Homo sapiens: one gene and its partner. The protein of the gene in region 1 purifies or fractionates together with the protein of each later gene. This does not show direct contact. Each region holds a gene or a part of one and is shown in the gene's direction. Other genes may lie near its edges.

The links. Proteins that work in one complex are often made in the same cells at the same time.
Region 2: the proteins of FBXO22 (region 1) and CENPE purify together in Homo sapiens (affinity purification with mass spectrometry, with the first as the bait; one study listed by BioGRID). This does not show direct contact.

The regions. Positions count from the first base shown.
Region 1 is NC_000015.10:75,917,181-75,921,192, forward strand, and holds part of FBXO22 (F-box only protein 22), read left to right. Parts: intron 1-49; coding exon 50-214; intron 215-4,012. UniProt on the Homo sapiens protein: Substrate-recognition component of the SCF (SKP1-CUL1-F-box protein)-type E3 ubiquitin ligase complex that is implicated in the control of various cellular processes such as cell cycle control, transcriptional regulation, DNA damage repair, and apoptosis.
Region 2 is NC_000004.12:103,105,055-103,108,327, reverse strand, and holds the end of CENPE (centromere-associated protein E isoform 1 precursor), read left to right. Parts: intron 1-2,011; coding exon 2,012-2,106; 3' UTR 2,107-2,517; downstream 2,518-3,273. UniProt on the Homo sapiens protein: Microtubule plus-end-directed kinetochore motor which plays an important role in chromosome congression, microtubule-kinetochore conjugation and spindle assembly checkpoint activation.

The DNA.
Region 1 (4,012 bases):
TCTAGTTTTTACTGACTCTATTGGTGAAACTGTTTAACTTTTTCTCTAGTGACTCCAATGGGATCAGGTAGCAATCGACCTCAGGAAATAGAAATTGGAGAATCTGGTTTTGCTTTATTATTCCCTCAAATTGAAGGAATAAAAATACAACCCTTTCATTTTATTAAGGATCCAAAGAATTTAACATTAGAAAGACATCAACTCACTGAAGTAGGTAAGTTACTTTTATTTATCATTAACTGCTCATTTTATTGATTAATTTTGTTTTCTTTTTAATTCTGGCTAGTTGGTGGATATTAGGTTCCTTTGGGAGAATCTGAATTAAGTACACCTGTCACTGGAGATGTGGCTAATTCAAACAGGTGATTCACAGAGGCCAGTGTGATACATGTTTGGTAGAATTGATTTACTTTTTAAATTATTTTACTTGCATTAAAGCCCAAGAGAACCAGAGATGAAAAATTTTTCATAAATACTCTGTTGATGATAAACTTGTTTGTATTTAGTTCTGAATTTTAAGGAATTCTTGCTCTAATAGTTTATTTCATTTTGCTCTATTTTTGTTTTGTTAACCTTTTTTATTCTAGTAACAAGCATTTTAGAAGTTTTTAGAATACGCGGGTTAGTTCTTTGTGAACTAATTAGAAAGATGGGAACAAGTAAAGTGACCCTGATGAGTCTTAGGAAATATATGAGTTAAGGCAAGTCTATCAAGCAAGGGGTGTGCTGGGAAACATCCTGCAGGTAGTGTGGATGGAGCCCTGAAGTGAATTTGAAGAGGTAAAGGGTTGGCTTAATGTCTAAGCTTGGATGGGAAAGCTTAACTTAATATAGTAAACAACAAACGAATTACTCAAGGAAAGCAGCGTTTAGCCTTTTATCTACATCTGCAGATGGACTGATTGAATTCACTTCATTCATTAAAAATCACTGTTGGCATAAAAACTATTCAGTGGTAACACCTCATTTTTGCATAGATCAGCCAGCCTATAGAGATAAACCTCTGTTATTTGAAATGGGACTTAAACCAGCTGGAGTAAAAAATTGTGTAGCAGCAAAGGTAAAATTTGTTTTACTGATGAGGAAAAAAAGGGGGTATACACATTGAGACTAGTTTTTACAACTATCCCTGACAATGTGGAAAAAAAAAAAAAACTTGCAAGTCATTGGTGGATGGGAGGGGAAGCACAGAACAAGAGGCATTAGCAGCAAAGACTCAGCCGGGAACCTCTTAATAATGTGGAAGAGGGTGGTCAGGTCAAAGTAGATGGTGGAAAGTCTCAACAGCCAGCTCTGGTGTGACACAGGGTAGTGTAGCTATTAAGAATGCTGACTTAGAAATGAAATCAGTATGTTGAAGAGATATCTGCACTCCCATGTTTATTGCAGCACTGTTCACAATAGCTAGGATATGGAATTAACCTAAGTGTCCATTAGCTGATGGTGGATAAAGAAAATGTGGTATACATACATAATGAAATACTCTTCAGCCATAAAGGACATCCTGTCATTTGCACCAGCATGGATGAACCTGGAGGATGTTAAGTGAAATAAGCCAGGCCCAGAAAGACAAATAGTGCATGATCTCACTCATGTGTGGAATCTAAAAATGTTGCTCTCATAGAAATATAGAGTTGAATGGCAGGCACCAGGATCTGGGGTGGTTGGGAGGGGCTTTGGGGAGATGATGGTCAAAAGATACAAAATTCGTTTTGGAGGAATAAGTTCTTGAGGTCTGTTGTACAACATGGAGACTATAGTCAGTGACCATATATTCTTTTTTTTGTTTGTTTTGGAGACAGAGTCTCACTTTGTTGCCCAGGCTGGAGTGCGGTGGCATGATCTCAGCTCACTGCTACTTCTACTTCCTGGGTTCAAGGGTTCAAGTGATTGTCATGCCTCAGACTCCCGAGTAGCTGGGACTACATGCTGTATGCACCACCATGCCTGGCTAATTTTTTTTGTCTTTTTATTAGAGATAGGGTTTTACCATGTTAGCCAGGGTGGTCTCAAACTCCTGGCCTCAAGTGATCCACCTGCCTCGGCCTCCCAAAGTGCTGGGATTACAGGTGTGAGCCATCGTGCCTGGCCCATATACTATATTCTTGAAGAATGCTAAGAGAGTGACTGTTAAGTGTTCTTACTACAAAAATGGTAACTGTGAGATAATGCATATGTGAATTAGACTTAGCCCTTCCACAATGTATATATACTTCAAAACATGTTATACATTGATAAATACATACAATTTTATCTGTCAGTTAAAAAATAAATAGAAGGTAGTCAACCTTAAAAGATTGCAGGCTTGTAGCTACTCTAGTTCTGCTACTTTCTGGCTCTCCAGTTAGGGCAAGTTTTTCAATTTTTCTAAACCTCCATTTTCCTCATCTATAAAGTGGAAATAACTAACATTGAATTCACAGAATTGTGAAGATTAAATGAAATGACTTTCATAAAACGCTTAGCAACAGTAGATTGTAGCTAGATGCTAGTGTTGGCCTCCACCCTAGGCAGGCTTTACTGTGTGTCACATGGGCCCTTCATCTGCAGTGTGGCCTTGTAGTTTGTGGGGGGAATAGTAGGGTTCTAAGTGTCCTTAGCTCATTCAGAAGCCACATGCCAGAGGAGCATACATGTGTCTGGGCTTGAAGTGACAATTAACGATGGCCAATGTTTATGGAGGTACTGTATGCCAGATACTGTGCTGCGCAGCACTTCTAATCTTCACCACAGCTTTGCCAGACAGAATTCTTTATGGAATATTTTTGATGAGGAAACTGAACTTTAATGGCAGTAGAGAGTTAAGGCTCTTAGGGTATGTAAATAGCAGAGTTAGCAGAAATGTTAAAGCTATTCTAAATTAAGGATGCCAAACTTCCTTTGGGAAAAGGTCAGATAGTGCCCTTAAAACTGACCCATTGTTAAGTGTAAAGGCAAAATGAATTTTAGGAGCAAATGTGGCTATGTGCTGAGCTTATGTGATTTTGTAATAACATAATGAGACTTGATATTGGTAGGCTAGCTGGAGCGAACAAAGTTCAGCAAACTAGGTCTTTTTCAGAGTTGGTCAGGTGGTTAGCAAATAGTAGGTCTGAAACTCAAAGGAATGGCTGTGGTCAGACATGTTGGTTTGAGAACCATTTTGTGTGTTGCCTGGCAGTCTGCCTGTAAAAGCATCAAGTGTCATTGAAGGCCTTGGAGTAAGCCAGTCCAGGGCAACATAGCCCAGATTCTGGGAAGATTTATGGCAGCAAATTTAGTACAAGGAAGGAAGAAGATGATCAATGTGTTGATGTTGACGAGATGACTATCTATATTCAATTGGCTCATAATGTAGAACTCCTACATTAATTTTATTCAGGCTGGTATGGTGGCTCATGCCTGTAATTTCAGTACTTTGGGAAGCTGAGGCGGGAGGATCGCTTGAGCCCAGGAGTTCGAGACCAGCCTGGACAATATAGTGAGACCTCACCTCTACAAAAAAACTAAAAAACTAGCCAAGCATGGTGGCACGCACCTGTAGTCCCAGCTACTTAGGAGGCTGAGGTGGGAGGATTGCTTGAGCCCAAGAGGCGGAGGTTGCCGTGAGCTGAAGTCACGCCACTCTACTGCAGCCTGGGTGACAGAGTGAGACCCTGTCTCAAAAATAAATAAATAAATAAAAATTTATTCAGCATGTTAAAGGTGACATAACTGGATGTAGATTCTGTCTCAGTGACATTCCAGAAAAGGTATGAAGAATACATATACAGTCATATGTTGCTTAATGACGGGGATGAGTTCTGAGAAATGCATCTTTAGGCAATGTTGTTGTTGTGTGAATGTCATAGTACTTACACAGACCTAGATGTTACAGCCTACTATATGTGTAGGCTATACAGTGTAGCCTATTGCCCCTAGACTACAAACATGGACAGCATGTTACTGTACTGAATACTGTAGGCAGTTGTAACACAATGGTAAGTATTGGTGTATCTGAACATATCTAAACATTAAAAAGGTACAGTAAAAA
Region 2 (3,273 bases), on another chromosome or scaffold:
AACCAGACATGATCCCTGCCTTCATAGAGCTTAATTCTCATGGAAGATACAGACAGTAATCAAGTGATTAAAAAAAAAAAAAAGTGAAATTATAGCAGTGCAAGTACAAAAGACTATGAGAAATATAATAAGTATTTGAGGAGTATTGAGGAAGGAAACAGATCAGATCTAAAAGGTTAACATGAGTTATCTTAATAAAGAGCAGAGGGAAAAACATCTCAGGCAGATGGAACAGCAACAGCGTTAGGGTAGGTGGGAACATGACCAGGGGAAGAGTTGAAAGAAATATGGTGTGGTCAGAGCACAGTGAGTACAAGCTTGTGTGGGTGAAGTCAGTGAGGCCAAAGAGAGAAATAAGAGCCAGAAATGCTGGACTTTTATAAATTATATAAAGGAATTGTTTCATTTATTGTGTAGAGGAAGCCTTTGAAAGATCTTAAGCAATGGCAGGAGAACATGAGTTATACATTTTGAAAACATCACCTCGTCTCTAAGGTGACCAGCAAATAATAGGAGCAGGAGTTAGACTGTTGTCTAAACAAGACATGATGGTAGTGTGGACTTGGAGTAGAGAAGGAGAGAAGTAGACCGACGGGAGAGATTTTGGAGTAAAATCAGCAACACCAGGCACCTGATTGAACAAAGGAGTGGGGAGGTATCAAGGATCACCCCCAGCTCTGCATGGAGGTTGTCCACAGAAGTGGGGGGACTTGCAGGAGAAACGGTAACACGGCATTTCTTGTAGTCTTTCTCACCACATAGCATCTACTGTGCACAGCCCTTTGTGACAGTGTGTCTGCCTACCCTACCAGAGGTACCCTGTTATGCAACTGTAGAAATCTAAAGCAACAAAATTGTACAGTAAGAAAGGCAGTTGCCAAATCATTTAAAACCTTGAGCACTATTTGCCAGAGTTTATAAACCTCTACTTTGTGATTAAGAAAAAATCTATCCATTCTCATCAACTACATCAAAATTAGATCAAGTTGACAGTCTAAAAGTGTTCTTAGGGAGATAGGTAGGCACAGAAACATTTGGAATAAAAACATGTTTGAAATATTCTCTTCATTAAATAGTATTTAACAAACATTTAAGGACCTTCTATTGGCTAGCTAACACTTGCATGGAACTCTCTCACTATGTTGCCCAAACTGGCCTTGAACTCCTAGGCTCAAGCAATCCTCCTAAGCATCAAGGACTACAGGTGCATGCTAGCTACCACACCCAGCTGTAATCACCTTTTGATTTTGTCTGCTAGTGCCAGAGGCATATGCATAATGTGAATTCATCAAACTGCAAATAAAAATGTTTGAGTCCTTTTTTAATATGTGGATCTCTCTGGTACTGTTTTTAGATAAATAAAAGAGTAGCCTAGAAGAATACATAAATCAAAAACTGACCAATTCAGAATTAAATGAGATAGTCCCAGCTTGAATTAATACCAGTCTTTAAAAAAATAAATGTGAGTTTTTACTTTTAATTATAAAAGGTAATCTAAATTACCTTAAACTAAGGTAATTGCCAAGACCAGTTATGGTAGATTTACTTTTATAAATATAATAATTGTAAAATAAATATTGTTTATAAGCAAATAGATGCAGCTAAAGTCCTTTTTAAAGGCTCACAGAAAGCTTTCCAAAGATGATTAAATATTCTCTAAAATACTATTTGTTTAGCACACCATTTATTTTGAAAAACAGGACAAAAGAAAACTCAATCAGCCCGTGTTTGATTCACTTTGAATTTCAAATTGAAGAATTCCAAATAAAACTTTATTACCTCTCAGTTTAACTATGGTTTGTCTAATAGTTCATTTTAGGACAAAATGGGGAGTAAACTTCTCCAACTCTGAGGTGAAATACACCATCTTCATGACCAAACACGGTGAATCACGTTGCCATTTTTCATTCTTCACATCTCTCCTGTCTTAACCTCCTTTCCACTTCCAGCTGTGCTTGGTTTTTGTGTATTTTTGTAATAGGATGAATGTTGTTTTCATTTTCTTTCTCAGAGGTGCAAAATGCAGGAGCAGAGAGTGTGGATTCTCAGCCAGGTCCTTGGCACGCCTCCTCAGGCAAGGATGTGCCTGAGTGCAAAACTCAGTAGACTCCTCTTTGTCACTTCTCTGGAGATCCAGCATTCCTTATTTGGAAATGACTTTGTTTATGTGTCTATCCCTGGTAATGATGTTGTAGTGCAGCTTAATTTCAATTCAGTCTTTACTTTGCCACTAGAGTTGAAAGATAAGGGAACAGGAAATGAATGCATTGTGGTAATTTAGAATGGTGATAGCAATACCTTCTTCTTGCATATGGTAATACTTTTAAAAGTTGAATTGTTTTATTTATTTGTATATTTTGTAAAGAATAAAGTTATTGAAAGAAATGTAAAGTTATCTACATGACTTAGCATATTCCAAAGCATAATACATACATTAATATAAAACATCATTTTATTAACAAAATTGTAAATGTTTTTAATACCTTACACATTCAATAAATGTTTAGTAGTTCTGAATCACCGCTCTTCTATATAATGTTAATGGTTTCTTGGTGAGGTAGTCTCTCTTGTTGACTCAGTATTTTGCTATGAAAATATACACAAGTTTTCTGGATCTGGATTTAAATTCTTAAAGGATAGCAGAGGCTATGTCCTCTTAACTTTCCAGTTCTAATATTCCTTTTACTGTAATAACCACAGAAGTTCTTTCTCACATTTCTGGTAACCTACCTATCCCAATCCCTATACAAACTCTCTAAATTGGTTGGTTTATTATAGACTTTGTTTTTCATTGCCCCTCACTCCCAGCCTGGAGGAACCTATAGATCATTTATTCTACCTCTTCATTGTAGACATAAGGAAACAGTACCAGAGTTTTTATCAAAGTAAAGTTTTCTAAACCTGGAGTCCCCACAGATAGATAAAGCATATATGGATGGACTTCTTGTAATCTGTAAAATTTTTGAAATTTTTTATGAACTTTTTTGTGTGGATTTATTTGGGGGGAGGGGATACTGGGGTTTATACTTTGTTTTATCATATTCTTAGAGGGGCCCGTGATCCTGTAAAAATCTAAGAACTATGGTTTTAGAGGATATTTGATATTACTTTTATACCATATGACTTTGAAAAACCACTTAAAACAAGTTGCATTAGGTTATAGAACAGAGGTAAAGTGATTTCAAGTCATTCTCGGCTCTTTGGTAAGATTCATTCAAAGGGAGAGATTATTGATTGCATCATATCTAGTATTTCAAAGTCTGTGGATTGGAT